Linked DNA regions of Homo sapiens: region 2 is linked to region 1. Evidence: fine-mapped QTL for protein levels in blood plasma. Region 1 holds a variant in brackets. A gene starts in the other region. All regions are shown on their forward strands.

Region 1 (16,149 bases):
AAAAACACATTATCAACAACTTCTCAAGGACTTACCTTTAGGTAGAGATTGGTTCTCACTACTAAACACGTAATATGATATCTGCACCTGCAGAATGCATCAGCATTATCTTAAAGTGAAATTGGAGTAAAGGTGAGGAAATATAGCATAATTTTTAAATTGCTATGTATGTAATACATTCTGGACCACACCTTTATGGTGGAGGGAAGAGAGAGGATGATATAAAGGAGATGATTACTCCTGGAATTTATATTTGATTATTACAGTTATGTTTTTCCTTGAGCAAGTTCTGAGAGCACTGATGAACAATGAAAATCTTTAATGGAGTATCTTTTAAAAAGGATAAAAACTTGGATAATTTTGAGATACAGTGCAAAGACTGAAACCAGTTTCACAAATACTCAGTTCAAATCTCAGCAATCCCACTTAATATATTGTCTGCATGATTTCAGAAAATGTTCTAAACACTCTGAGACTCAGGCTTCTTATTTATAAAGTGGAGAAAATTCTATTTGCCTTCAGAATATTCTGAATATGGTTTATAATATTGCAAATACCTCAAATATCTGCAAGGTTGTATGGCTATTAGCCGTAGATTTTAATACTCTGGAGCAACAGCACATTAAGTAGCAATAGTAGACATTCAAAATCACATTATTATTTTAGAGTGAATAAAGCAATGTAGTAGTAAGAATTAAAAGATGTCATTTATATGAAATTATTGTATAAATTTCTAAATAATAATAGAAATGTTTGCAATCGATATGTTTGTTATAGGGAGATAGTTTGGAAGAGTGGATTAAAACCATACATTCTCAAATTTGGCTCCTAAGACATAACTAGTGTTCAGTAACTGCATGACTGAGCAAGTTATTCTAATTCTCTATGCCTCCATTTACTCCATTTAATCATCTGTGTAGCAGGGAAAAAATAGTGTCTACATCACAGGGTTGTTGTAAATATTAAATACTTATAATGGCTCCTGGTACAAAGCAAGTATGGTATAAAGTTTTACTAACTTTGGTTGAAGACTCACATTTGCAAAGGATTTATTAAATTCAAGAGAACTTGTATATAATTTACTTTACTTACCCTTTTAAGTAAAAGTACATTCTTTGGGGATAATACTCAAACAATACATAATATATGATATATATATGTGTGTGTGTGTGTGTGTGTGTGTGTGTGTGTGTCTGTATTTGACTTTATTTTTAATGGATATATCATAGTTGTACATATTTGGGTGTTACACGTACTATTTTGATATGTGTATACAATGTATAATGATGAAATAAGGGTAATTAGGATATGCATCACCTCAAACATTTATCTTTTCTTTGTGTTGGGAACATTACAATTCTTCTAGCTGCTTTTAAATATACAATAAATTTTTACTAACTTTAATTTTCCTACTGTAGTGTTGAATACTAGAACATATTTATGCCATCTAAGCATATTTTTGTACCCAGTAACCAACTTCTCTTTATCCTCCCTTCCTCTCACAGCCTCTGGTAGCCACCATTCTACTCTCTGCCTCCATGATATCTACTTTTTTTAGCTCCCACATATGAGTGACAGCATGAGATATTTGTCTTTCTGAGCTTATCTTATTTCACTTAACATGATGTCCTCCAGTTCCATCAATGTTGCTGCAAAGGACAGAATTTTATTATTTTTTATAGCTGAATAAAATTAAATTTTGTATATATACTGTGTGTTCTTTATCCATTCATTTATTGATGGACACTTAGTTCAATTCCATATTTTGACTATTGTGAATAGTGCTGCAATACACATGGGAGAGCAACTGTCTATAATATATTGATTTCCTTTCTTTTGGATATATACCCAGGAATGGGATTTCTGGATCATATGGTAGTTCTATTTTTAGTCTTTTGAGAAACCTCTATACTGTTTTCCATAGTATCTCTTTTACTTACATTCCCACCAAGAGTGTAAGAGCATTGCTATTTCTTCTTCACATCCTTGCCAGCATTTGTCATTTAAAAAAAATCTTTTTGACAATAGCCATTCTAACTGAGATAAGATGATATCACATTGTGGTTTAGATTTGCATTTCCCTGATGATAAATAATGTTGAGCATTTTTCCATTTACTTGTTGGCTATTCGTATGCATTCATTTGAGAAATGTCTGTTTATGTCCCTTGCCTGTTTTTTAACTGGGTTATTTGGTTGTTTTGCTATTGAGTTGCCTGAGTTCCTTTTATATTCTGTTTATTAATCTCTTTTCAAATAGGTAGTTTCTAATATTTTCTCCTATCCTCTAGGTTGTCTCTTCACTTTGCTAATTGTTTCATTTTTGTTCAGAAGCTTTTCAACTTGATGAAACCCTGTTTGTCTATTTTTGCTTTTTTCGTTTGTGCTTTTGAGAACTTACCCCAAAAATCTTTGCCCAGATCAATGTCCTGTAGTGTTTTCTCAATGTTTACTTCTAGTAGTTTTCTAGGATTATGCCTTTTTTTTTTTTTTTTTTTTTTTTTTTTTGAGACGGAGTCTCGGTCTGTCGCCCAGGCTGGAGTGCAGTGGCGCCATCTCGGCTCACTGCAAGCTTTGCCTCCCGGGTTCACGCATTCTCCTGCCTCAGCCTCCCTAGTAGCTGGGACTACAGGCGCCCACCACCACGCCCAGCTAATTTTTTTTGTATTTTTAGTAGAGACGGGGTTTCACCGTGTTAGCCAGGATGGTCTTAATCGCCTGACCTCATGATCCGCCTACCTCGGCCTCCCAAAGTGCTGGGATTACAGGCGTGAGCCACCGCACCCGGCCTAGGATTATGTCTTACATTAAAATCTTTAATTGATTTTAGTTGATTTTTAATACAGTGAAAAATATGGATCTAGTTTCATTCTTTTCCATAGGAGTATCCAGTTGTCCTATCACCATTTATTAAAGATGCTGTCCTTTCTCCAAGGTATGTTGTTGGCACCTTTGTCAAAAATGAGTTTACTGTAAGAGCATAGATATATTTCTGGGTTCTCTATTCTATTTCATTAGTTTATTTTTTTTTCTTATTCCAGTACCATGTGATTTTAACTACTACAGCTTTGTAGTGTAATTTCAAATCAGATGGTGTGATACCTCCAGCTTTGTTCTTTTTGCTCAGGATTACTTTAGCTGTGTGAGATCTTATGTGGTTCTTTAAACAAATCTGGAGGTAGCTTTGGGGAGTATAAACATTTTAAAAGTATTAATTCTTTAAATCGTTGAACATAGGATATTTTTCCATTTTGTGTGTGTCCTCTTAAATTATTTTCATCAGTGTTTTCTAGTTTTTTCTTATAAATATATTTTACTTCTTTAGCCATACTTATTTCTAAGTATTTTTGTAACTATTGTAATTGGGATTTCTTTCTTGATTCTTTTTCATATAGATTGCTGTTAGTATATAGGACTGGTACTTATTTTTGTTTGTTGATTTTGTATCCTGTAACTTTACTAAATTTATCAGTTTTAATAATTTTTTGTGTATTAGTTTTTTATATATGGTATATTTTTAAGTTAATAAGGTGTGATTACTTCAAATTTTGTATCTCTCTGAATTTTTCAATCGTAAAAGAAACGTTTGTTTATTATAAAATGAAACAGAGAGCCAAATCATGAGTGAACTCCCATTCACAATTGCTTCAAAGAGAATAAAATACCTAGGAATCCAACTTATAAGGGACATCAAGGACCTCTTCAAGGAGAACTACAAACCACTGCTCAATGAAATAAAAGAGGATACAAACAAATGGAAGAACAGTCCATGCTCATGGGTAGGAAGAATCAATATGAAAATGGCCATACTGCCCAAGGTAATTTATAGATTCAATGCCATCCCCATCAAGCTACCAATGACTTTCTTCACAGAATTGGAAAAAACTACTTTAAAGTTCATATGGAACCAAAAAAGGGCCCGCATTGCCAAGACAATCCTAAGCCAAAAGAACAAACCTGGAGGCATCATGCTACCTGACTTCAAACTATACTACAAGGCTACAGTAACCAAAACAGCATGCTACTGGTACCAAAACAGACATATAGATCAATGGAACAGAACAGAGCCCTCAGAAATAACGCCGCATATCTACAACTATCTGATCTTTGACAAACCTGAGAAAAACAAGCAATGGGGAAAGGATTCCCTATTTAATACATGGTGCTGGGAAAACTGGCTAGCCATATGTAGAAAGCTGAAACTGGATCCCTTCCTTACACCTTATACAAAAATTAATTCAAGATGGATTAAAGACTTAAACGTTAGACTTAAAACCATAAAAACCCTAGAAGAAAACCTAGGCATTACCATTCAGGACATAGGCATGGGCAAGGACTTCATGTCTAAAACACCAAAAGCAATGGCAACAAAAGCCAAAATTGACTAATGGATTTAATTAAACTAAAGAGCTTCTGCACAGCAAAATAAACTACCATCAGAATCAACAGGCAACCTACAAAATGGGAGAAAATTTTCACAACCTACTTATCTGACAAAGGGCTAATATCCAGAAACTACAATGAACTCAAACAAATTTACAAGAAAAAAAACAAACAACCCCATCAAAAAGTCGGCGAAGGATATGAACAGACACTTCTCAAAAGAAGACATTTATGCAGCCAAAAGACACATGAAAAAATGCTCATCATCACTGGCCATCAGAGAAATGCAAATCAAAACCACAATGAGATACCATCTCACACCAGTTAGAATGGTGATCATTAAAAAGTCAGGAAACAACAGGTGCTGGAGAGGATGTGGAGAAATAGGAACACTTTTACACTGTTGGTGGGACTGTAAACTAGTTCAACCACTGTGGAAGTCAGTGTGGCGATTCCTCAGGGATCTAGAACTAGAAATACCATTTGACCCAGCCATCCCATTACTGGGTATATACCCAAGGGACTCTAAATCATGCTGCTATAAAGACACATGCACACGTATGTTTATTGCGGCACTATTCACAATAGCAAAGACTTGGAACCAACCCAAATGTCCAACAATGAGAGACTGGATTAAGAAAATGTGGCACATATACACCATGGAATACTATGCAGCCATAAAAAAGGATGAGTTCATGTCCTTTGTAGGGACATGGATGAAATTGGAAATCATCATTCGCAGTAAACTATCGCAAGGACAAAAAACCAAACACCATGTGTTCTCACTCATAGATGGGAATTGAACAATGAGAACACATGGACACAGGAAGGGGTACATCACACTCTGGGGACTGTTGTGGGGTGGGGGGAGGGGGAGGGATAGCATTAAGATATATATCTAATGCTAAATGACGAGTTAATGGGTGCAGCACACCAGCATGGCACATGTATACATGTGTAACTAACCTGCACATTGTGCACATGTACCCTAAAACTTAAAGTATAATAATAATAAAAACATAAAATAAAATAAAATGATAAGGTATTACAAACATAAGAAGAAAAGGCCAAAGAAAGCACTATAGTGCCAACATTTTAAGGAAATCAATAAATTGGAGATAATAATCACATTCTTTTTCAGTGTGTGTTATTTACAATTGCTTATTTTTTAATTATTAACTAATGACATAATTCAAAGTTTGATATAAATTGTTTGCAAATTGCTAGAGTCACTGTTGTAGGGAATTTTTAAGGTAATTTGATTAAACTACTATAAAAAAAATTAATCTTTCTACAATTTCCTGACAAACTTCCTACAAGGAAATCTTATTATTATATGTTAATCACTATTGTTACTGGAATGTTATTTCATATATTTATCCAATTTCATCAACATTTCATTTTCTTGGTGTTCTTACCTCTGCTTTTTGTAGTAATTCAAACTGCCCACTGTGTATTTTGTTTCATGGGTTCCTAATTTGGCAGGCAACAGGCACTTATGAGCCTGAATAGAAAAGGAGGAATACACGCCTCTGGACAAATGGTGGGACATCTTAGACACAGTAACAAGGTACGTCAGGAGGTGCTCCTTTGGCTAGGCTGGCAATTTGCTGAATTTGGCTGAAATGAGAGGAGTCCTTTCCTTGGGGACTACAATGGCAGGTAAATGAACCTACAAGGCATAGATGACAGACAAGGGTTGGCTTCTTAAGTGCAGCTGGAGTGGCACACATTTGTAAGCAGATAGCATGCCGATGCTGCTGTCTTACTTGGATCTACTACTGGAGATGGTGTCATTCTAGTTGATTTCTGGGGAGTATATTGAGACCCAAAGCCTTGGACTGAGCTGAGAAATGCATTATTTAAAAGATGAAATTAAGGAAGTTTATATTCCTCCTTTTCTCAATACTTCAAAGGAAGTGGCTATCCTACTGAAGGAATGCTACAAACCAAGAGATGTGTGCTGGGCCCTGCTCACAGAAGCTTTTCACCAGGATGCCAACCAGACAGAAGAAAAGAACCCAAACTCCTAGAGAAGATGAAGTGGAGGGGAGGACCCAGGATGCCAACCAGACAGAAGAAAAGAACCCAAACTCCTAGAGAAGATGAAGTGGAGGGGAGGACCCTGGAGAAGAGGACTGTTGCCCTCTAGAGAAAAGAGCAACATGGTGTCACCACAATTGGGACTGGGAAAATTTACCCTCTTTTTGCCTGTCGTCCACCACAAGGCAATAAGAACAAAACAGACAAAATGATTAAGAAGGAGAAACCAACTCTCCCTTGGAGGAGAAAACATGCATCTTCTCTCTCACCCTGAGGCCCAGTCTGTCCTTAAGGATCTAGCCCAAGAACAAAATGAGAAAGGATCTGGGTACTTGTTAACACATCTTGCTGCATGTGAGTAAAACAACAATCACCAAGTTTTATAGGTAGCTAATGACATGCACCAGAACTATCATATCAGTCTGCTGACTAAACAGATGGAACAAATCAAAAAGTCATTTCTGTTTCTAATCTATTCTACCTCCATTAGGTGAATAGACTGGCTGTGAATACTTTCGAAATCCTAGTTTGTGCCCCATCTTGTATGGAATTCTGGGTTATGAAAATGCTTTGTCACTGGCTCCATCTAAGCCCTACAAAACAAAATACAATTTAGATTATAAAACAACATAGAACCAGGGATGGATTGTTATATAAATGTGGCAAAATAATGGCCTCTGAACATTGGCCACTAGGTTGTTTATTTCTTCGCTGCAGGCTGCAACCCATTAGCTCAAGAGCCTGCCAGTGCCAAACACAAATATTTACACATCCAGTTATTTTTAAAACAGCCCAAACAAGCTAATTTTTAGCTATTTAGAGCCTGCTTATTTTGAATACTTTGTAAAACGTCATGCCACATCTGCCAGCAATAGATAAGCCCTATGCCATAAAGACCCCCAAACCACTGCTGCCCTCTGGATGTGGCTGAGTCACATCATCTGGATACATAAGTCCCATCTTTGATACCCCTTCCCCCTAGGAAAATTCCCAGCCCTCCTCCCTTTCTGTAGCAACCCCACTTAAGCCTCTGGATAGACTTATGTTCTGTCATAAGAGATCCCCCCTCCCATCCCACATAAAATACAAACCTGTCAAAGAGTGATGAAATAAACTGCCATGTCATGGTCATATCTTTTCCTTGATCAAGCCCCAAATTTCTCAAACCTCTCATGAATATGCCATGCACATACTAATTTAAAGAAAGCTAGAGTGCCCCTATTAATATAAGATGATGTAGACTTCAGAACATGGAATTTTATTAATAATATAGAGGGACATTACATTATAAAAAAAAGTAGTTTTCCAAGAATAACTTAAAAATCCTAAAAACATATGTACTTAAATGCTGAGCTTCAAAAATACATGAAGCAAATCTAATAGAATACAAAGGAAAAAGGAAATCTCCATAATCAAGTTGAGACTTCAACCTTCATCTTTCAGTAATTGATCAAATGAATAGACAGAAAATTGCTAAGATATGAAAAGTCTGTCTACCTATCTAACTACCAGACCTGAAAAACCTATCTATAAACTTGACTCTAATTCCTACATCACCCCACTTAACAACAGAATAAGATTTCTTATCAAGTATACATGAAATATGCACCAAAATTGACCATATTCTGGGCCACAAAACAAATCTTAAACAATTTAAAGGAATAGATATCATACAAAGGGCATCCCCAGATAACTATAGATTAAACCAAAATCAATGACATAAAGGCATCTGTCATATCCCCTTAGACATTTAGCAATTAATCAACAAAACCCTATGTAGTGCCTACACCTAAGAAAAAGTCTCAAAGGATACTGCTTTTGTGATTATACTAAATGAAAAACAAACATATCAAGGTTTATGGGATGCAACTAAAGTGGAGTTCAGAAAGAAAATTATAACAGTAAGTGCTTATATTAGAATACCATAATGGTCTTTAAATTGTTCATGCACCTGCCTACATTTAATTATCAACACAGGACTCATGATTTTCTAAATAGGATTAGATTGTATTATATCTCTGCCTTTCTGTCTTATGCAGAATAAAATCCTAAAAGTTTATCACAGCCTTCAAGGCTCAATATGATATGGCCACACGGTACTTTTCTGACCTCACTTTCTCCCACCTGTGTCTACTGTTCCAGTAATGTTAGCCTCCTTGTGCTTTCTCAAAAATACTCCTGCCTCCACTTCTTTGCAATAATTTCTCCCTCTGACAGTTAACACTCTGCTTTTTATAGACACATAAGTGAGTCTCTCCCTTCATTAAGTTCTCTCAGCCTCTCTTTATTAGAGAGGCTTCTTTAACCACCCTGTATAAAATACCACTCCCTCTACCTTGGGTAACTGCAATGATACATCAAACATACTTGATATGTAAGTGCCTCAAACACAGCAGACATTTATATTTTGTTCACTCTATGATGACCATGCCAGTTTAACACTCCTCCACATCTTTGCTCAGAGTATTAGGCTGAGTGGAACCATGACACCATTTTCAATATGTGGTTTCCAAGCTTACTGGGGTCCTCTCCATCCTTGCTAGTGAAAAGATAAAAAGAGGATGAAAACAACAAGAGTATGGTAGGCTTTAGTTTTGTTCACTTTTTTAAGGGCTAGATTAGAAGATTGCATACATAATTTCTGCTCACTCTTTAGTGAATGAAACCGAGTCACATGATTATATTTTACTTCATAAAAGGTTGATTTTGAGAGCCTCAAATCTATGTTCTCAAGCAAAAGATTATAATGTAATTTTGGAGAGAATTTAAGTCTTTGAGCTCCCATTAAATTGTGCCTTAAATTTTTTAGTCTGGAGCTTACTAGATCCTTCTGTTAGTAAGTGCATTTTTTTCTTTCTTGTTTCTCTAGCCTGAATAGAGTGCAAGCATCATGAGAACAGGTACTCTGGGTATTTTTCTCTTCGGTTGAACAAATAGTCGTAAATGCCTGTAGTTTTACATTTAGATACC[G/A]AAATAGACTTATAAATGGAACTTTCACAATAAAATTATGAATATATTGAATGGAAGTGAAGATAATTTGTAACATTAAAGATTTATTAAAATTGTCTTGAAAACATAAGGTAGATAAAGAAATTATTTTTAATTCTGGGCAATTTACCCCCCCCACACACACACATATATATGCATATAATTTTTACTGATTATTACTAAGCATTTAAAAAAGAGTCATAGTTCTTTATCCAACATGAGGATTCTACACATACTTCCTGCTATTTACTCTGAAATACCCACAACCATTAGAAATAATTCTGAAGTATTTAAACCATAATTAAAGTCATTACAATGCCTTCTGTAGTAAAATTTGGCTTTTGAAAAGTGAAAATCGTTCTGCAAAACTCTCCATATTGCAGTAGAAAAACTAAGTATCACTTACATTTGACAGCAACTAAATGTAACACGGGCATGCAAAAAAAATGGAGAAATATAAATTATAAGAAGTCAATTGCATAGAGAATTTTTAAAAATATATTTGGTATTATTTGTATCATAGGGAATATGGTAGTTGCCTTCACAAGTCTAACCAGATAGAAAAAGAAAATTCCAAGTTTCAGAAAGCCCAGCCATTGGCAGGTACCCAAAATATGTAACATCAAGAGGTTGGTATGGAATGGACACTATGAATAAAGGACAGTAGGGCCCCAAACTGAGAAACTTCAGTAATGTCTAGCTGCTGTCTTTCCTAGTGGCATTAAAAATAAATATATTTCTTGTTGGAAAGTGTCCTGATTGTGTAGGAAAGTAATGATTACATATTTATTTTACTGCTGTTATCACTAAAATCATATCCTCTCTTATATAATATATTTATCTGATTTAGGAAATAGGCTCCAAAGAAAATTGAGGTCTCCTTACAGGCAAAGAGAACATAGAGTTGAAATAGAATTGCATTTAAGATGTGCATATTGGCCAGGGGCGGTGGCTCACGCCTGTAATCTCAGCACTTTGGGAGACCGAGGCGGGTGGATCACGAGGTCAGGAGATTGAGACCATCCTGGCTAACATGGTGAAAACCCGTCTACTAAAAATACAAAAAAATGAGCCACGCGTGGTGGCGGGCGCCTGTAGTCCCAGCTACTCGGGAGGCTGAGGCAGGAGAATGCCGTGAACCCAGGAGGCGGAGCTTGCAGTGAGCCGAGATCGCACCACAGCACTCCAGCCTGGGCAACAAGAGCAAGACTTCGTCTCAAAAAAAAAAAAAAAAAAAAGTGCATATAATGTTTTTTCTTGTCAAAAGAAGGAACTTACAGGAACATATACAATTATCAAACTTTTGTGTATGTTCAAAATTATTAAATTTTAAATTATTAAACATATACAATTATTAAACTTTAAATTTTAAAGTTTAAATTTTATATTTATATTTTATTTCATAACATCCTAACAACAAAACATTTTTCCTCAAATTTATGTCATGTATTTAGACTTAAAATGGATCTGTATTCATATCACCTGTTGTTTATGATTACAGACTTAGTCTTCCTGTTCCAGTTGATTCCACACTGAAATCTACTGTTTCAGGCACTTTTTAAAATATATCTATTTAATTTCTGGGATACATGCACAGAATGTGCAGGTTTGTTACATAAGTATACACATGCCATGGTGGTTTGCTGCACCCATCATCCCGTCATCTACATTAGGCATTTCTCCTAATGCTATCCCTCCCCTAGATCCCCTCCACCCCCTGACAGACCCCAGTGTGTGATGTTCCCCTTCCTGTGTCCATGTGTTGTCATTGTTCAACACCCACTTATGAGTGAGAACATGCAGTGTTTGGTTTTCTGTTCTTATGATAGTTTGCTAAGAATAATGGTTTCCGGCTTCATCCATGTCCCTGCAAAGGACATGAACTCAGCCTTTTTTATGGCTGCATAAGTATTCCACGATATATATGTGCCACATTTTCTCTATCCAGCTTATCATTGGTGGACATTTGGATTGGTTCCAAGTCTGTTATTGTGAACAGTGCGGCAAAAAAAACATATGTGTGCATGTGTCTTTATAGTAGAATGATTTATAATCCTTTGTGTATATACCCAGTAATGGGATTGCTGTGTCAAATGGTATTTCTGGTTTAGATCCTTGAGGACTTGCCACGCTGTCTTCCACAATGGTTGAACTAATTTATACTCCAACCAACAGTGTAAAAGCATTTCTATTTCTCTGCATCTGTTGTTTCCTGACTTTTTAATGATCACCATTCTAACTGGCATGAGATGGTATCTCATTGTGGTTTTGATCTGCATTTCTCTAATGACCAGTGATGATGAGCATTTTTTCGTATGTTTGTTGACTGCATAAATGTCTTCTTTTGAGAAGTGTCTGTTCACATCCTTTGCCCACTTCTTGATGGGGTGGTTTGTTTTTCTCTTGTAAATTTGTTTAAGTTATTTGTAGATTCTGGATATTAGCCCTTTGTCAAATGGATAGACGGCAAAATTTTTCTCCCATTCTGTAGGTTGCCTGTTCACTCTGATGATAGTTTCTTTTGCCGTGCAGAAGCTCTTTAGTTTAATTAGATCCCATTTGTCAATTTTGGCTTTTGTTGCCATTGCTTTTGGTGTTTTAGTCATGAAGTCTTTGCCTTTACCTACATCCTGAATGGTATTGCCTAGGTTTTCTTCTAGAGATTTTATGGTTTTAGGTCTTACATTTAAGTTTTTAATCCATCTTGAGTTAATTTTTGTATAAGGTGTAAGGAAGGGGTATAGTTTCAGTTTTCTGTATAAGGCTAGCCACTTTTCCCAACACCGTTTATTAAATAGGGAGTCCTTTCCTCATTGCTTGCTTTTGTCAGGTATGTCAAAGATCAGATGGTTGTAGATGTGTGGTGTTATTTATGAGGCCTCCGTTCTGTTCCATTGGCCTGTATATCCATTTTGATACTAGTACCAAGTGGTTTTGGTTACTGTAGCCTTGTAGTATAGTTTGAAGTCAGGTAGCATGATGCCTCCAGCTTTGTTCTTTTTGTTTAGGATTCTCTTGGCTATGTGGGCTCTTTTTTGGTTCCATATGAAATTTAAAGTAGTTTTGTCTAATTCTGTGAAGAAACTCAATGGCAGCTTGATGAGCATAGCATTGAATCTATAAATTACTTTGGGCAGTATGGCCATTTTTATGATATTGATTCTTCCTATCCATGAGCATGGAATGTTTTTCCATTTATTTGTGTCCTCTCTTATTTCCTTGAGCAGTGGTTTGTAGTTCTCCTTGAAGAGGTCCTTCACAACCCTTGCAAGTTGTATTCCTAGGTATTTTATTCCCTTTGTAGAAATTATGAATGGGAGTTCACTTATGATTTGGCTCTCTATTATTGGTGTATATGAATGCTTGTGATTTTTGCACATTGATTTTGTGTCCTGAGACTTTGCTGAAGTCGCCTATCAGCTTAAGAATTTTTTGGGCTGAGAAGATGGGGTTTTCTAAATATACAATCATGTCATCTGCAAACAGAGACAATTTGACTTCCTCTCTTCCTATTTGAATGCCTTTTATATCTTCCTCTTGTGTTTCAGGCACTTTTTTTGCATTAGTTACCTAAGGGGTTCTGTAACAAATTTCCACAAATGTGGTGGCTTAAAACTACACACATTCGTTCTCTTATACTCTAGAGATAAGAAACCTGAAATCAGTTGCATTGAGCTAAAATCAAAGTGTCAGCAGGGCCGCACTCTCTCCAGAGGCTCTCGGGAAGTGTGCTTCCTTCTCATTTTCAGATTCTGAAGTTGCATCACTTGCATTCCTTGGCTCATGACTTCTCGCACCTAGCCAGCAGAGTCTCACCTCTCTCTGACTCTGCTCCCCTCTGCCTCATCTGCTTCTCTCTACTTCAGCCATGTGACCATCTTATCTGTTTCAAATCTGTCTTTGCCTTTGTCTTATAAGGACATCTGTGACTGCATTCAATGTCTACCTGAATGATACAGAAAAATCTACCCATCTCAAGATCCTTAGCTTAATCATATCTGGTTAAGTCTCTCTTTGCCATTTAAGGTAACATTCACAGGTTCCAGAGACTAGGACCTGGAGACCTTTGAGCGTTATTATTTAGCCTCCCACATGGTTAAGGATACTTTAAGAATTATTAGTCAATGATCAACAGAACTGTAAGTTAAATTTGACCCAATTCTTCAATTCTTGTAGCAATATTAATTTATTTAGTCTGAGATTACCAAAATTAAATTTTTCTTGAAACTCAGAGAAAATTATAAATTTGATTTGTCTATTTTCCAAAGATGTCTATTTATCTCAAATGATACTTAAGTATCCTGAACTTGATGTCTTGAAATTTTAATACCTAGAACTAATCCACCTTATGGGGAAAAAAGTGTGTTAATATTTTGTTTTTACAGTATAGAAATCAATTTGTCATCTTAGCTACATTTAGTAACCAAGGAGTAAAATGAGACTTGATAAAAACACTACCAGCTTTCCCTTCTATATGATTAAGAGAACATATTTTTTGGAGTCTGTTTATATTGCCTTTTAAAATTAAATAGCATTTTCAATTTGTGCAGGAAGAAACTGCTGCCAGAAAGATGAACATCTGCAAAAGTTTTAGAAACTGTATATGATTTTTTTCACATTCTATAAAGGTTTTTAGGACTGATAAGAAAATAATAAATTTGGTGGTACCTGAGTCACCTAGGTTAGCACAAATGAATATTTTGAGTTTCCAAAGAAATATTTGACCACCTCATGCTGACTTAATATCTTTCAGGGTAATCACTGGCATGTTTTAATTAGCAATCAGGAGAGAAATTTACAAAATTAATATGAAATTATGTTAAACCTAAATCAAAACACTACCAGCTGTATAATTACACATAGATACACCACATAATAGGTGAAAATATGAAGCAGAAATTGACATGCATGGGATCAAAAACATTAAACCTCCTGGTTTACTGTGCCTTGTATCATCTGGGTATTATATCTGTAATAGTGGTTTGTATTGTGGTGAACATTGTGTAACAAAGTGAATTGCTGCAGCAGAGTACCTTGCTGTAGAACATAGACAAATAGCACTCTTTTTAATTTAAAACCAAACTTTCTTTCCTTCCAAGAGCTTATTAAAATCTCAATAGGGCAATAATAGCAAATCATATTACCTAGGAAAGAACATACATAAATTTTATTTCACAAAATTGTCTCTGCTTTTCTAAAGTAATCTAAGAATACATGGTATTATTTCATCTCATTATCCATTCCTTTTATAGAAAATTGGAGATCTGGAGTCACAAGTTTTCTTGTTCAGTCTCTCTACTCTATTTATAATAAATGTGTATGTGGTAGTAACATTTTGATAAAAGTCCAACATACAGAAAATTCTGGAGAAAATACATTTTCACAGTTAATCATCAAATGAAATAAAATCGTTCCTAAGGCAAAATAGTAGGGAAAAGAACTATAGATTTTACATATATTATTGGGATTTTAGTACAAACTCTTTCATTTAGGAGTTACTTCAACCTTGGAAAACAGAAAGGCACAACTGTGTTCGTGTTATGGCTACCTGTGCCACAAGCAACAGTTATTGGAGGCAATTTGTTTTTGTTCATTCATTCATTTAACACATTTTAAAAATATTCATTAAGTTACTTCTATGAACCAAGACTTGTTCTAGAAACTGAAAATACCTCAGTGGAAAAAAAAAAAAAAATATATATATATATATATACAAGGGGACCTAGAACTCATATTCTATCCTGTGTGTGAGAGTGTAGAAAACAAAGAATAACTAATAAAGAAAATAAATATGTAAGATATGTAGCATTTTAGAAAGTAATAACTTTTATTTTGTTATTAACTTTAATGGAGGAAAATACAGCAGAACAAGGAGATGGAGATAATAGAAAACTCGAGAAGGAAGGAGTACTGCCTTACTTAAACAGTGGAATAAGAAGATCTTATGGAAATAACATTTTATAAAGTCTTATAGAAACAAAAGAGCAATGCTTATAGATATCCAATGGAAGAGCATTCTAAGACTCTCAGGCAGAGGATGAATAAAATTTGCAAGGTGAGAATAAAATTTAATCAAGTTGAAGTTACAAGAAAGTGAGAAAGGTGAGAAAGAATTAAAGATACGTGTTAGGGAGTGGTTACAATGTTGGACTATGGAACTTTTCTCAATAAGGAGGGAGTTAAGTCAATGATGAGGCTTTAAGATTATTGGATTGGAAGTCCATTGTGGTTGAAAGACTGTTGGAGTCTTGTACCTGAAAGGGTTAGCTATAAGAAAGAATGTGCTGAACTGGTAAGGGGATCATTGAAATTGAGTACATGGAAGGGTTAAAGATATTGATAACAGCAGGATCTAGGGATATGTTCAGTGGGTAACTGGCTAAAATAGGTATGAAGACAAGAATAAGGACAAGAATAGGACATGAATATTGGAGGAAAGAAGTTCAAAGAAACATGAGCCAAGATGTTGGTGTGGCCCTCATTATGAATACAGGAATCTCAGAAATTAAGATTGCTGTAATGTTATAGAATATGATACTAAGACAGGAGATAAAACTGTGGATAGAAAAGAGAGATGACCTGGATGTGCACAGATCACTAAAAAGAATTGGCAGTAGTTACATAGTTTTATGAGCAAAATTTCAGTGCTTCGAGTATTTGCGGAAGAGGAAGAGAGGACAGTTTGGAAGTGGAAATGTAAGAGACGTTTGAACCAGAGCTACTCCATCTTGAATAGG
Region 2 (16,149 bases), not on the chromosome of region 1:
CAGGCTTTAGGGTCAGGTAGACCTAAGTTCAAATTCCACCCTTCCAATGACTCGGAATCTCAGGTTCCTCTTCCACAAAATGAGAGTGAGAATGGCACCTATTTTATAGGAAAATTGTGAGAAAATGCATGAAGAAAGCCTATGCTCAGAGCCTGGGTGACAGCGTGAGATGCTGTCTCAAAAACAGAAAAGAAAAAGAAAAAGAATGAAAGGAAATGAGCGCTAAATGTAAAGTTACCTGGAACCATTGCATTTCCAGTTAACCACATCTCTGCACTCTACCTTTCCTCCAGAGAACCAGAGGGTGGTAAAGCAGCTCTACCTCAAACACCCCAATCCCTGTGGTACTAATGGGGGAAACAGACCAGAAGGGCATGGAAGACTCAGCGAAGACACTGTAGGGTGCCCCCTGCCTGAGGCTCCGGTCACCTCTCCCCTCCTGCAGCTCCTGCCTGCTGTCAAGAGGACCTGGGTGTGAAGCCCAGCTCTGCATCCTTCCAGCTGTGCAGAAGTGGGCCAGGCACCTCACCTCACTGGGCCTCAGTTTCCTTGACTGTTAAACAAATATGACCACTGGCAGATTGTCTAAACACCACCAGGCAGAGGGGACAGGCAGCTTGAGCTAAGGTGTGGAGTGGGGAACCGCAAGGGGCTGTGAGAACCCACAATCACACTCTCTGCCTCTCCCTGTTCCCCGTAGACAAGCACAGTGACAGAAGCTGGACACTGCCTGTCCTTCCACGTCTCTCCCGCTGCTGGCCACACACAGGGAGCAGCAGGTATGGCCTGGGCACCGGCAGGGCTCCCAGGCGGAGGGATTGGGGTGAGAGCAGGCACAGTTCTCAGATTTTGCCACAAGGTAGAGTTGTGACCCTGCTACTCCATGTTTCTCATACCTGTTAGAATTTAAGGATATTTGCATAATGCAGCATTTTATTTTTATTTTTATTTTTTATGCCAGGCACTGTGCTGGGCATTTGGCTTTCAGGATCGCATGTGATTTTCATAGCCACCTCTCAAGGTCAGCAGTATCATTATCTCTATTTTAGAGATGAGGAGACTGAGGTTCAAAGTGGTGATGGGACTGCATGGATGGACTGGGGAGTCTGACTGGGGAGTCAGAATTCGGCTCAAATCCCAGCTCTTCAGCCTATCAGGACACATAACCTCTCGTGCCTCAGGCTCCAAAGGGGAAAAATGGGGCCAATGATAGCAATAATATTTTGAATAGACCTTAGCTCTTTGTGGATTGTTTATCCTATGCCCAGCCATGGATCATTTCATTCCGCCCTTTACCCCCCTTAAGAGGCAGCTGTTGATACATATTCATTCTGCAGATGAGGAAACTGAGGCCCAGTGAGGTTAGCTGCTGCCTGGCCCACTTCTACACAGCTGGAAGGAGGCAGAGCTGGGCTTCACACCTAGATCCTCTGGCAGCGAGCAGGAGCTGCAGGAGGTGGTGGGTGTCTGGGGCCTGGAGCAGGGGGGACCCTACTGTGTCTTGGCTGAGTCTCCCATGCCCTCTGGCCTCAGTTTCACCACTGATACCACAGGGATTGGGATGTTTGAAGTGGAGTGCCTTCACGGTCCCCTGGTTCTCTGGAGAAAAATGCAGTGCAACAGCCAAGAAGCCATATCCAGGAGGCTCCTGGAGTTGCGGGGGTGGACCCTGCAGCAAGAAGAGGGCCCTCAGCTCCTGGGTGTCTCCCCATGCCCCAGCCAAAGCCACCCAGAGCTCAGTCCACACTGGGCCTCCCTAGTGTCACTTGGGTGCATGGCTGATGACACATATGACCATGTTTGTTTTCTCAACCTTTTCGTCAGGACCGCCTTTGTGAACAACCTGAGGGCCCTGCAGGCTGCGGGGAGAGTCACGTGGAGCCTGAGGGTGGCACAAGGAAGGCAGAGAAGAAGCAAGTGGAGCTGGCCTTCAGGGTTCCTGAGTCTCCACAGGCCCAGGGCACCTGTTCTTGGTCCAGCAATAAATGCTCAGATGGATGGCGAGGACTTGGGTCACCACAGGATCCACTATGGGAGGCTCCTGGGAAATATCACCATCACGACATTCATTCTTTCAGGCAGTAAGCATAGCCAGGTCCCATTTGATATGAATCTGACCTGCAAATCTGCAACAGTGTCCTGCAACATATTAAGTTTTACATGGTGACCAGAAAGTTAAATAAAACATCCCCTCCCCCCACCTTTTCCATTGTTAAGAACACACACCTAACTTGCTCAAGTCCCTCCCTTCTCAGGAAGAATAAAGGTCCCTTCTGTAATTCCACACTCCCTCCACCAACCTCCTTCCCTCTCTCGTCCCTTCGCAGCCAAAGTTCCTTAGAGCTGTGCTTCTCCACCTTGAACACACAAATGAGCCACCTGGGCTCTTGTTAAGATGCAGGTTCTAGAGCAGTTGGTCTGAACTAGGGAGAGGCCAGCGGTCCATGGGCCACCCTTTGAGCAGCATGCTTATTTTGGATACATCCACCCCACCACCCATCTTGTTTCCACTGGTTGCCCCACCAAACTCGGCCTTACCAGGTCCTCCGTGATCACCAGGTAGAGGAAGTCAATGGATCATAGATGAGGTCAGCCTCATCTTGACCATAGCACACATACCACTTCCTCCTCCATGAATCCAGTTCTTCCCTTGGCCTTACTCCCCTGGCTCTCCTCCTCCTCCTCCTCTGACCATTCTACCTCTGCCTCTTTGCAGATGTAATATTTTCAAATCGGCCAACCAGTGGCTTCCTTCACCCTGGCCACTTTGGTTGGTTCATTGCTCCGCATGTAACCCCAGCAGGACCAATGGGAATCAGTCCTAGAACTTGTGAAGAGATATTAGGAAAGACATACTTTCTTCTGCTAGACTATTAAGAGAGAATGTGGACCTGAATCTGTTGGTGGCCATCTCTGCCACCTCTTTGGGGAAGTCAGTTTGAGGAGAAACCCCAAGCCAAGTCATGGAAAGAAACAAAGGCCTGGAGATTTCTTTTGAGCACCTAGATTCAGCCATGCCTGAAACCCGTTGGCCTGCTAGTTACATGAGCCAATGACTTTCTTTCACATCTAAGTCACTTTGGGTTGTGTTTTCAATTACAAATATAACCCAAAGAATCCTGACAAATGCAACTGACAAACATTTCAGTTTATTGGCAAGCCATGGTGGGAAACCAGAGATGAACCCCAGAGAGAACTTGGCCTCCTGGAGTTGACAATGGAGAAGAGACAGCTGTGGGTGTGTAGGCAAGGAAGACACCTGTTCAAAAATGACAAGGCAGAACGTGAGAAAAGGTCAGCTGGGTGGCTCAATGAAGGCTTTATATAAGAGGTGCTTGCAGGATGGGGAGAATTTGCAGGGGGGTGACATCCTCAGACCTGGCCCTTGGCACTGGGAAGAGTTGATGCAAAGAAATTCTGCGAGGCCAGAGAGGAGGCTTTGGGAATTGTCCAGCAGAAACAGAGAAGTCTGAGGTGGTAAGCCAAGACCCCACAGAAACAAGTCCTTCGAGGGTCCCGGACGAAAAGACAAGGAGCTATGGTACTTCTCCCATGGTTTTGATTTTTTTGTTTTTTTGAGATGGGGTCTCGCTCCGTCGCCGAGGTTGGAGTACAATGGTGAGATCTTGGCTCACTTCAACCTCTGCTTCCCGGGTTCAAATGATTCCCCTGCCTCAGCCTCCCGAGTAGCTGGGACTACAGGCACCTGCCACCACACCCGGCTAATTTTTGTATTTTCAGTAGAGACGGGATTTCACCATGTTGGCCAGGCTGGTCTTGAACTCCTGACCTCAGGTGATCCACCCGCCTTGGCCTCCCAAAGTGCTGGAATTACAGGCATGAGCCACTGTGCCCAGCCTCTCCCATGGTTTTTATTCCCCCTTTTGATTGAGTGGCCACCACACGATGCTCCAGGATTCTGCATTCCCCCTTTAATTTAATGCCTCCCCAGTCCCTACTAGCCAGGATTAGCACCGATTTTAGAGAGCAGAAGACACTGTCTCAGACAGCGGCCATGCCTTGCCTAACATCACACAGCTGGCCAGTGGCGGAATCTAGAATGAGGCTCTGCCCTCTTTCCCACCCTTAATCCTGCCGCTGGGCACAGCACTTCTGAGTTATCTTTACTGAGCACTTATGATGTGCCCGACACTGGGCTAACTCTTTTCCAGGCTTAAGTCCCAGATCAGCTATGTCAGGCAGATGATCATGGTCACCATTTTGCAAATGAGGAAATGCAGGCCCAGAGAGGCAATGCCACCATTCCAGAGTCACACAGCTAGAAAGCAGCAGGGTTAGGACCCAAATTGAGGTCTGGCTGGTTACCCAAAGCCCCTGCAAGATAAATATACCCAGACTTAGCCACGTTTTGGAATCCTCCCATCATTTGTCTTCTACATGATCTGTCTCCACCTACCCCACAGTGTCATAGCACTTCCTCTTTCACTCCCAAAGTGCTAACTTCGACCCCATTCAGTGCTTAAAGGAAGGACCTTCACCAGGGCTGGGCACTGTGCCAGGGACAGCAGCTCCCCATTTGCTTGGGGCCATCAATGCACAGAAAATTTGCAAGAACTGTACCTGCTTTGTGGAAAGTAATTGTCAGTGTGCGTGTTGGCCTCTGCCCCTGCTGGTGGGGTCTAAGGATGGACACATGTGGGGGTGCTCTGTGGGGCCCAGAGCCCCACACAGGACAGGACCCAGGTGAGACGCTCTGTAAGTGTGTGACGAATGAATGAATGACAGGATGGGTGGGTGGAGGGAAGGAAGGACTCTTCTTGTGATTCTGGGTCTCATCTACATTCATCTATTCAGTCTGTGGATTAACTTGCTTTTCTCACTTTAATTAATTGTGGTATTTATTGGGATCCACCAAAAGCCAGGCCCCAGGCTGGCTGCTGAGGACACACAGATGGCAGAATCATGATCCCCAACCTTAAGGAGCCCCAGTCCAGCGGAGGAGAAAGGGCTAACCCACAACCCTTCAACCAGTAAGCTTTTATGAAGGGATTTCTCTGACACAGGCTTGGGGCTGGGGGTGCTAGCGCAATGGAGATGAATCGAAAGGACCCACACAGCCCAGGGAGGATTCCGACTGTTAGAATATAAATGGCAGTGCTGCCGGGCACGGTGGCTCATGCCTGTAATCCCAGCACTTTGGGAGGCTAAGGCAGGCGGATTACTTGAAGTCAGGAGTTTGAGACCAGCCTGGCCAAAAGGTAAAACCCCGTCTCTACTAAAAATACAAAAATTAGCAGGGTGTGGTGGTGCATGCTTGTAATCCCAGCTACTCGGGCGGCTGAGGCAGGAGAATCACTTGAATCCGGGAGGTGGAGGTTGCGGTGAGCCGAGATGGACTTTGTTTAAAATATATATATATATATATGTACAGTATAAATGGCAGTGCACTGTGAGTAGCTCAGAGCATGGACTCCGGAGCCAGGTTTTCTGAGTTCAAGCCCCAGCTCTGCCACTTACTAGGTGTGTGACCTTAGGCAGTACACATTACCTCTCTGTGCCTCAGTTTCCTTGTTTATAAAATGGGAATAAGACAGTCCCTGCCTCTGGTTGCTGGGAGGAGTAAATGGAGAGAATATGCCTTCTTGCCAGACATGGGCCGATCGAATCAGCTCACCTACTGCCCTGGAGTTGGCCTGTCTCTGGGACAAGGACTGAGCTTCAGACATCTTTGACCCCATCACAGGGCTTGGGGTGCCCACTAAAGGGTTGTCAAAAGCATGAGTGGCTCCAGCAGAAAATAATTTGCACTTGTAAAGTGAATGAACAATAAATAAATGGACAGATGACTAGATACAGGGCCAGGCCCACTTTAGCAGGGAGGATCTGGAAGATGAGAGAGGGCACAGAGAGATTGAGGGGCCAAATTCCAGGGAGTGAGGTGAGAACAGGGAGCGACCCAGAGAGCTCGCTCATGTCAAGAGGCCCACCCACCTGGGGAAGACAGAAAGTCAATGCCCATGAGGGGAACCAGACCCTGTGCTGGGTACTGGGACCTCGGAGATGCTGTGGTCTTGCCCTCAGAGAGTGGGACTGGCGAGACGTGGCTGACCTCCCTCCCTCCCTTCTTCTCTTCCTTTTCTCCTCCCTTTCTTCTTCTCTCTCCACATCCCCTCTCTCTCTTTCTTTCTTTCTTTCTTTCTTCCTTCCCTCTCTCCTTTCCTGCCTTTCTTCCCTCCCTCCTTCCCTCTCTTTCCTTCTTTCCCTCCCTCTCTCTTTCCTTCCTCTCTCTTTTTTCCTCCTTCTCTCTCTCTCTTTTTCCTTTCTTTCCTGCCACAAACATCATTTGACTCCTGCTGTAGACCAGACCCTGTGCCAGCTCTGGGGGAACGAAGGTGAACGAAGACAAGGTGCCCAGACTTCAAAGGACCCAGGGGAGGACCCTGACCCGGTGAAAACTCCTTTAAATTTTCTCTGGGAGTGTTGGATGAAGCATTCAGGGAACATTCCATGGGACAGGAGGAAGAAGACTCCAGCCTGCAGTGGGGCAAGGCCCCCTCCATCTGTCAGTCCATAGGAAGTGGCTCTCCATATTCTAAAGGCAGGACTTGAGAGGGGTCTATTAGTGTCCAGATGTGGAATCCGGGACTTAGGGAAATACTTGAGCGCTGAAAGAATAAACTGTGTCACCAGAAGAAAACCCGGCAAAGTCAAAATTACCAAAAGTTGAATTAAAGGTCTTCAGACTGTAACATTGTGACAACTTTATTAATTGCTCTATTTAGCAGTCACAGGAAGGACAGTAACGTGTGAACAGGTTTTGTTGCTTTGATCTTTCTTATTTGCCCAGAATTCCTGAGTAGGCAGTTCAAGTGTGAGAAACCAGGACCTACTAGAAATTGGATGGATGATTCGTACTTGACTGATTTCACAGGCAAAATGGTGACAAGCCTTTCAGCAATTTTACTAGCAAAATAAGGCAATTATCTTTGATGGGTGCAATGGGAGTGCACACCTGTGTGTTTGTTATCTGGAGAAGGGGTGGGGGCTGCTTCTGTCCACAGGAGAAGGAAGGTCAGTGGGCAGTCTGGTCAGCTGAGCACCCCCCAGCCTGGCTGGCCCCTCATGCAACCCCAGCCCTGTCACTCGCTTTCTCTGGTCTCAGTAGGCTGCATGACCTCTTAGGCTGTTTCTAGCCAGGGCACTGAGCCAGGTATGGAAAAAGATACCAGCTTGGAGGTTAAGGCTGGGCCAGTGGGATCAGGAAGCTGCCCCAGCTGGGGATTAGCAGTCACGCAGCAGGTAGGATGTCCTAGTCTTGGCACAGCTAATCTTTAATGCCTCACTGGGAATTTTCAATAAGAAATTCATCTCGCGACCCTCATGGCTGGGGCCTTTGTCCCTAAGAGGCAAACATCTTCTATGTGAGAAGACTTTGTGTAACCTGGAGAGGGAAGAAGAGGAGGAGGAGGAGCACACAGGAGGAGTTGTCACTGTTTCTTTTTCCGGAATGACTCAGACCAGCCAGCCTGAACCTCGGGTGACCTCTGAGGATCCCAACCTCCCCACCCACCAAGGACCCTATATTATATATTATATAATATTAATCTTATGACAGATGCTCCTCATTTTATTTTATTTTTGTTTGTTTGTTTGAGACGGAGTTTCGCTCTTTTGCCCAGGCTATAGTGAAGTGGCACAATCTTGGCTCACTGCAACATCCACCCCCTGGGTTCAAGTAATTCTTCTGCTTCAGCCTCCAGAGTAGCTGGGATTACAGATGCCTGCCCCCACACCCGGCTAGATTTTGTATTTTTAGTAGAGACAGGGTTTCACCATGTTGGCCAGGCTGGTCTCGAACTCCTGACCTCAGGTGATCTGCCCGCCTCGGCCTCCCAAAGTGCTGGGATTACAGGTGTGAACCACCATGCCTGGCCAGATGGTCCTCATTTTATAATGGGTTGTGTCCCAGTAAACCCATAGTAAAGTTGAAATATTGAAGTCAAACCATCGTAAGCCGGGACCATATGCGCACATATTCATCAGCATCTTCTTCGCCATCTTTGCTGTTGCCGTGCATCATGGGCCTACCCTATGCTAAGCCTTCATGGGTATTACACTAATTTGACCTCACAGCATGCCCTTGAGGTGAGCACTGTTCTTAGTCCCATTTCACAGATAAAGAGCCTGAGGCTCAGCAAGGTGCGGTCTCTGGCCCAGGTCACATGGCCAGCAACCAGCAGAGAGAGAGTATTCATGCCCAGGACAGCCCAAGCCCAGTGCCAGGCTCTGAGCACTGCCCTCAAAGCCCCTCACCATCGTTTTGATTTCCTAGGTCCTTGCCTGTCCACCATGCCTCTGAGATCCAGGAACAGCGTGTTTACCCATTTTACAGATGAGGCAACTGAGGCCTGGGCCAACACCAGGTCTCGAGGTCACTGCATCATGCTCAGCACCCTGGGCTATGTTCCTGGGCTGGGACAAACTGCCTTCACAAGATTTCAGCACAGCCCTTGGCTCTGTGCTTCACAACTGGGGGAAGAGCGGGGCTCAGACGTTTGGAGAACCCGGTGTCAGGCAGCCAGGGAAGGAGGTGTGACAACCATTCAAGACCACAGGCAAGACTGCAGCAGGGGTCTAATGGTCTGGGCTCTTGGGGCCTGGCCATCACCTTCCTGCAGCCGCCCAGCTCTGTGCTGTAACAGTGGAGCCATGGTCAGTGTAGGAACAGCCAGCTCCTGGAGCCACTGGTCTTGTCCCACCGTTTGCTTGGTTGCATCATTTTGAGGACAGGCCCCCCAGGTCCTTGCTGAATTGCAGGTGGGTGAGCAGAAGGGCAGAGACCTATGGTGACCCTGAGCTCTGTGCCAGTCCTTCCCAGCCTGAGGCCAAGTGGGCACCCACCCGAGTTTCCTGTGCTGTTCCGGGTTGACACAGGCCCAATGCAGCAGGCGTTACAACCAACCCAAACATCAGTGGCCGAAGCAAAAACAGGATACTCAGGCCCAGGGACTCTCCCTCTCTGCTAACTGACCTCAGCCTGATATGGGTGGAAGGGTCTTCCCTGGTGGCCCAAATGCCTGGTTCCTGTCCTTGCAAGTATGGACAAGCCACCTCCCTCTCTGAACTTCAGCTTTCTCAACTGGAAAATGGAGCTCTGAAAACCTGCCTTACAGAGTTTTCATAAAGACTAACAGAAAAGTGCATCTAAAGTGCCCTTTAGGGACACCAAGCCCAGTGTCAGCACAAGCAGCTGCCAGGCATCTGCTGCACCTGCCGGGTGCAGACCCCTGGGGGCAGGACCCCTGGGAGGCTGTCTGACTCCTTGTGGGCCACAATTCTAGACCCATCTCGGTCCCTGTCTTGCTGAATGACCCCAGGCTGGTGGCTTCCCCTCTCTGAGCCTCAGTTTCCAAATGATGACGGAGTTAGACCGGATGGTCATTATGGGTCCTCCTGCCAGGACATTCTCCAATTCATTCATTCTCAGTCTTCTCCCAGTCCTCACCCACAAGGACCAAGGACCACCCCCTCGGTAGCTGCAGGCTCCATGAGGACCTGGTCTTAGTCTTGGCGGAAAGCCCTCTCCATAGCCATCCGTTTCAATTCAAGCATCCTGGGTGACCTTTGAGTTGGAAATCTCTCTCTCTGCTCATCCTGGAGAGGGGTTATTTTCCTTGGAGTGTCCTTGGATGATCCCAGAACCAAGGCTTGCTTCTGTGGGCAGCCTTCCATCCCATCTCCACCATATAATAGCCGCCACCATTCAGCAGAATCCCAGCAGACTGTGCAGTGGGGCAAGGATTTCATGAGCATCCTCCTCTAAACGCGTGAGTGGCGTGCTCCCCCCAGTGGCACCACACGTGGTGGTCTTTGGAAGGCTTTGGGGGCAAGAGGCAGAGGGGTGGGATTGCTTGGGTTAGCTAATATTTTGAATACAGCAGAGATAATCAATATATCTCTAAATGTGCTCTAAATGGCAAGTTCGTGATGAGTACTCACTAAAGATTCCATTTCCCTCTGGGCAATTCTTACTCCTGTTCTTCCCATGACTGTCCAGGTGTCAAGACAAATGGCAAATCAGAGTAAATTTAGAGATCTATAGATTATATTAAAATAAGTGTCAAACTAATGAACAATGCAGGGTCATGAGGTGGTCTCCATTGATTTGTTCATACTTATATTCAACAAAGATTTATTCGTTTACTGTACTGTACTAGGTGCAGGCTTTTTACTGGCGCCTGAGGATTCGACAGTGAAATAAGTCACAGTCCTTCCTCTAAGGAGTTCACAGCCTGGTAGGAAAGGTGGTCAAATCATCAGGGAAGTGTTATCCAAGACCTTGATCAGGATAATGAAGGCAGCAAGGTGGGACTCCTCCAACCTAGAATCTGGGAAGGGGCCTACAGTAGGCTTCACAGAGGGCATGATGTAGGAATTGACCTAAGTGGAAAAGTAAAGAAGAAGAAAAATATTTTAGGCAGAGAAGACAGCGTATGAAAAGGAACTTTGTGTCAAGAGTATGGGCTTGGAGTCAAGTCTGACTTTTCAAATCCCAGCTCCTCTGCTCACTGACTGTGTGTCTCCGGGCAAGTTGCTGTAGCTTTCTGACCTTGGCTGCCCATTTGTAAAATAGGAAATAACCACATCTATCTTAATGGAATGCTAAATGTTAAGAGTGATGGGAACTCACTGAAGAGTCCATTTCCCTCTGGGCAATTCTCACTCCTGTTCTTCCCATGACTGTCCAGGTGTCAAGACAAAAGATGCTTCAGCTTTGGAAACTTGTTCTCCTGTGCGGCGTGCTCACTGGGACCTCAGAGTCTCTTCTTGACAATCTTGGCAATGACCTAAGCAATGTCGTGGATAAGCTGGAACCTGTTCTTCACGAGGGACTTGAGACAGTTGACAATACTCTTAAAGGTAAATCAACAAGGGTGATGAACAGTGTCACCTAAATTAGCCTCCTAAACACTATGCCTGCATTACCAGAGGCTGCCACCAGGGGCTACTCTTTATGGGCGGTTTACTGAGAAAAGTGGCTATTCAATTCCTGACTCATTCGTTTATCTTTCTAGAAACAAGCAATGCCACAATGAATAGCCTTTTACATATTATATCCTGATAAACGTGCATAAGATAAATTCCTACAAGTGGGATTTCAAAAGTTCAAAAACTATGCTGTTGACAAATAATCTCCTATGTTAACACTTTCTCCAACAGTCTACGAAAGTGCCTTTTTTCCCACTCCTTTTCCAGCACTGGGTATGGACAACTTTAAATATTCTGCCTGTCTCACAGATGAAAAGCTATAACTTATTTCACTTTGCATTCCTCTAATTATGAAGGAGCCCTCTTCTTTTTTCATATATTTACTATGTACTTACATATTTTAACTTGAGGATTTTGTCTATATTCTTAGCATATTTTTCTTTTGGGTTGTTTAATATTCTTTTATGGACTTGTGTTAATTCAGTGAAAATTAAGGAAATTATCCCTACCTAGCCTTGGTATCTGTAAAGCTACCTACCTTTATATTTATTTATACCTCCTTTTTATGCTAACCTATTAAAATAACTTGGCTTTCTTTTTGTTTTATGGAAACATTAGCAGCACATCAAAAACAGTTTTTGTAGGAGGAGGTAACTTCTGCAAATGGCTGCCTTTCAAACCTTGTCAAGGGCTTAGGTAACTTTCAAAGATGCAGAAAGGACTCACACTCTAATTTCACAGCTGAGAAAACTGAGGCCCAGAGACAGAAATGTCTAAACCAAAGTCACCTCGTGAATTATACGATTAGACGTAGTTATATCACCAATTTTATTTAAAGTGTCATTCTCTGAATCATTATAACTAGGTAGATATTGTCCATTACAGAGCCAAGTTACAATATTATGATTACATCTCTTTTCTTATACGGTATAGTCTTTTGTTTTTCCTTAAGTTAGTAATTGCCCTGTTGTTTCTCACTTGAATTATTTTCTTCTCATATATACTTAATTATTTTCATGAGCATCATCCTGTATCTATCATGACATTTATTATTTTTTGAGACAAGGTCTCACTCTGTCACCCAAGCTAGAGTACACTGCCAGCCTCAACCTCCTGGGCTCAACTGATCCTCTCACCTCAGCCTCCCCAGTAGCCGGGACTACAGGTGCACACCACCACACCTGGCTAAGTTTTACATTTTTTGTAGCGGTGGAGTCTCACCATTTTGCCCAGGCTGGTCTCGAACTCCCGGCCTCAAGTGATCCTCCTGCCTTGGCCTCCCGAAGTACTGGGATTACAGGCGTGAGCCACCACACCCAGTCACGACATTTATTCCCATCCCCCTGTTCTCCAGAGACCTATCATAAAGACACTTTGTCCTCCTCCTCCTATAAGAATTATTGCTTTCTTTTGGTGCAACTGCTTTTGGTGTCATGAAGTCTTTGCCCGTGCCTATGTCCTGAATGGTATTGCCCAGGTTTTTTATGGTTTTGGGTTTTACATTTAAGTATTTAAACCATCTTGAGTTAAGTTTTTAATAAGGTGTAAGGAAGGGATCCAGTTCCAGTTTTCTGCATACATCTAGCCAGTTTTCCCAGCACCATTTATTAAATACAGAATCCTTTCCCCACTGCTTGTTTTTGTCAGGTTTGTTGAAGATCAGATGGTTGTAGACATGTGGTGTTATTTCTGAAGTTTCTGTTCTGTTCCATTGGTCTATATGTCTGTTTTGGTACCAGTACCATGCTGTTTTGCTTACTGTATCCTTGTAGTATAGTTTGAAGCCAGGTAGCATGATGTCTCCAGCTTTGTTCTTTTTGCTTAGGATTGTCTTGCTATATGTGCTCTTTTTTTGGTTCCATATGAAATTTAAAGTAGTTTTTTTTTCTAATTCTGTGAAGAAAGTCAATGGTAGTTTGATGGGAATAGCAGTGAATCTATAAATTACTTTGGGCAGTATGGCCATTTTCATGATATTGTTTCTTCCTATCCGTGAGCATGGAAAATTAACAAATGGGATCTAATTAAACTGAAAAGCTTCTGCACAGCAAAAGAAACTGGCATTAGAGTGAACAGGCAACCTACAGAAGGGGAGATCATTTTTGCAATCTATCTATCTGACAAAGGTCTAATATCCGGAATCTACAAGGAACTTAAACAAATTTACAAGAAAAAAACAAACAACCCTATCAGAAAGTGTGCAAAGGATATGAACAGACACTTCTCAAAAGAAGACATTTATGTGGCCAACAAACATATGAAAAAAAGCTCATCATCACTGATCATTAGAGAAATGCAAATCAAAACCACAATGAGATACCATCTCACACCAGTAAGAATGGCAATTATTAAAAAGTCAGGAAACAATAGATGTTGGCAAGGCTGTAGAGAAATAGGAACACTTTTGCCCTGTTGGTGGGACTGTAAATTAGTTCAACCATTGAGGAAGACAGTGTGGTGATTCCTCAAGGATCTAGAACCAGAAATACCATTTGACCCAGCAATCCCATTACTGGGTATATCCCCAGAGGAATATAAAACATTCTACTATAAAGACACATGTACACATATGTTTATTGCAGCACTATTTACAATAGCAAAGACATGGAACCAACCCAAATGCCCATCAATGATAGACTGGATAAAGAAAATGTGGTACATATACACCATGGAATACTATGCAGCCATAAAAAAGAATGAGATCATGTCCTCTGCAGGGACATGGATGAAGCCAGAAGCCATCATCCTCAGCAAACTAACACAGGAACAGAAAACCAAACACTGCATGTTCTCATTCATGAATGGGAGTTTAATGATGAGAACACATGGATGCAGGGAGGGGAACAACACACACTGGGGCCATTTGGGGGCTTGGGGGCAAGGTGGGGGAGAGAATTAGGACAAATACCTAATGCAGGTGGGGCTTAAAACCTAGATGACGGGTTGATAGGTGCGGCAAACTACCATGGCACATGTATACCTATGTAACAAACCTGCACATTCTGCACATGTATCCCGGAACTTAAAGTTAAAAAAAAAAAATTATTATTATTGCTCTGTGGACCTGCTGGAAAGCTGTCATTCTGGGACTCTCGTTTTCCAGTTTCATGGATTGGAGCCATTTTTTCTCCTGGATTCTAGATTTTTCATTTCTTGAGTGTATTCTCTCATTCTTTCTAGTTTTTCAAACTCACGTGAGCATCTCACTTAGCACAATGGACCCCTAAGTCACTCCTAGACACTGGTGTACAATCAATAGCAATTGCCTGGCCAACTGGTTGATTGCACTGTTGATAAATAATCAGTATATATTATTAATAGTACGGAGGCAGTATGGAGGAAACAAGAGTTCCCTGGCTGTGTGGCTAGACACGTTTCTTAACCATCTAGAGCCTTTATTTCCTTAGCTATAAAAAAGCAGACAGTGACAATATCTACTTCACTGAGTTGTTATAAAGATTAAATGAAATAACATAGGCAAACAGTCTTACCCGGTACCTGGAGCATCGTAGCTACTTCGTAAGTGGTGCGTGACACAAAATGGCGATTGTTTTTGGCAGGCATCCTTGAGAAACTGAAGGTCGACCTAGGAGTGCTTCAGAAATCCAGTGCTTGGCAACTGGCCAAGCAGAAGGCCCAGGAAGCTGAGAAATTGCTGAACAATGTCATTTCTAAGCTGCTTCCAACTAACACGGACATTTTTGGGTGAGTTGGTCCTTCAGGGTGGAGATCTTTGCTCTAAGGAAAGGGAAAACATATCTTTGAGGAGGTAAGTTTAAGATGAAAGACAGATGGACAAGCCTCATTCCCCTCCCACAGAGCCAAGGTGGTCTGAGCAAGGCCAGACCCACCAGAGCTTGAGTAAATTAGAGGCAGGGCTACAGAGTCAATCCGGGCATCTTATGGGTTCGGGCTTCCGCTTTCTTTAATTTCAGGGTCAGGGTGAAGGTTATATTTATCCTTACCTCTACCCATTTGCTGGTACACAAAGTCCCTTTCCAAGGAATAAAACTTCCCTTTTCCATATATAACTGGGGGTAAAAGCCCAGATCCCCTTAGGGGAAGGGAACTGGAGTCTTCGCCACATAACCCCAGGCAGTGGATCCACTCACATACTTTTATTATTATTATTGTTATTATTATTATTTTTTGAGATGGAGTTTCACTCTTGTTACCCAGGCTGGAGTGCAATGGCACAATCTTGGCTCACTACAGCCTCGCCTCCTGGGTTCAAGCGATTCTCCTGCCTCAGCCTCCTGAGTAGCTGGGATTAGAGGCATGCACCACCACGCCCGGCTAATTTTGTATATTTAGTAGACACAGGGTTTCTCCATGTTGGTCAGGCTGGTCTCGAACTCCCGACCTCAGGAGATCTGCCTGCCTTGGCCTCCCAAAGTGCTGGGATTACAGGCGTGAGTCACCGTGCCCGGTCCCACTCATGAACTTTTAAAGTCAGATAGTTCTGGCCTCAAAATCTGCCTCTGGCACTTACTCCCCTAGGAATCTGGGGGAAAATCACACCAGCCTGAGCCTCAGTGTGCTGTGCCATAAAATACAGAGAATCAAACCTCTGAACAGGGCTATAGTGAAGACTAAAGAAGGCAAGGCTGACGAGACCCAAACGCTCAGCTCGAGGCTGGCCCAGGGAAGTGGTTGGCAAGTGGCTGTCATGAGGAGTGACAAGGGTGAATTGTGGGTTTCACACAGGTTGAAAATCAGCAACTCCCTCATCCTGGATGTCAAAGCTGAACCGATCGATGATGGCAAAGGCCTTAACCTGAGCTTCCCTGTCACCGCGAATGTCACTGTGGCCGGGTGAGTATGCACTAGAATCTGAGATTTGGGAAAGGCAGTGCAACCTGGCCGATGGATGCCCAACCTGGGAATCGGGCACCTCCTCCCGCTGCTGGGTGAACTTGGGCCTCAGTTTCCCAATCTGTGAGTGAGAGAACCCTTCTGGGTCTAAGATCTTAACCCTTAAAATGTTCTAGAGAACTCTGGCCATAAGCAAGTGTCTTTTAAAAACAATGCTCCATTGAATATAGTTTTGAAATCATGACATTTATCTGGTTTTAAAATTTGAAAAGTTGAGATAACAAACATTTATCATTCTTTGGCAAAATTTCCTCCAGCATTATTTTGTCCCTCAAGATTCTCTCTAAGTTGCAGTGACCACTACAGAAAAATTCATACAATAAT

Direction of the effects. Alleles are on the strand shown, and positions count from the first base shown. The strength of an association depends on the size of the effect and on how common the allele is.
As copies of G replace A in region 1, the plasma level of the protein whose gene starts at base 9,738 in region 2 goes down (weak association).

Evidence for each region. PIP is the chance, under the fine-mapping model, that this variant and not a neighbour inherited with it causes the effect. Protein levels are from antibody-based Olink assays in UK Biobank. Linkage for the fine-mapping came from a reference panel and not from the study's own genotypes, which makes the PIPs less certain.
Region 2: it holds the start of BPIFA2, and the variant in region 1 is fine-mapped to the plasma level of the BPIFA2 protein (UK Biobank, PIP above 0.99).

What each region holds. Positions count from the first base shown.
Region 1 is chr1:102,639,063-102,655,211 of GRCh38, forward strand. LOC105378874 (a long non-coding RNA gene) reads right to left here. Exons shown (of 3, transcript XR_947651.2): 3 at 8,841-8,963. Among named protein-coding and RNA genes, the nearest start is that of COL11A1, 460 kb to the right of the region's middle. The variant G/A (reference allele first, on the strand shown) is at 9,395.
Region 2 is chr20:33,158,422-33,174,570 of GRCh38, forward strand. It overlaps BPIFA2 (BPI fold containing family A member 2), which reads left to right and starts at 9,738. Exons shown (of 9, transcript NM_080574.4): 1 at 9,738-9,788; 2 at 10,710-10,881; 3 at 14,511-14,655; 4 at 15,658-15,765. The coding sequence starts at 10,725. LOC105372714 (a long non-coding RNA gene) reads left to right here. Exons shown (of 4, transcript XR_005647055.1): 4 at 1,825-2,202. RefSeq lists enhancers at 7,876-8,377, 8,378-8,877.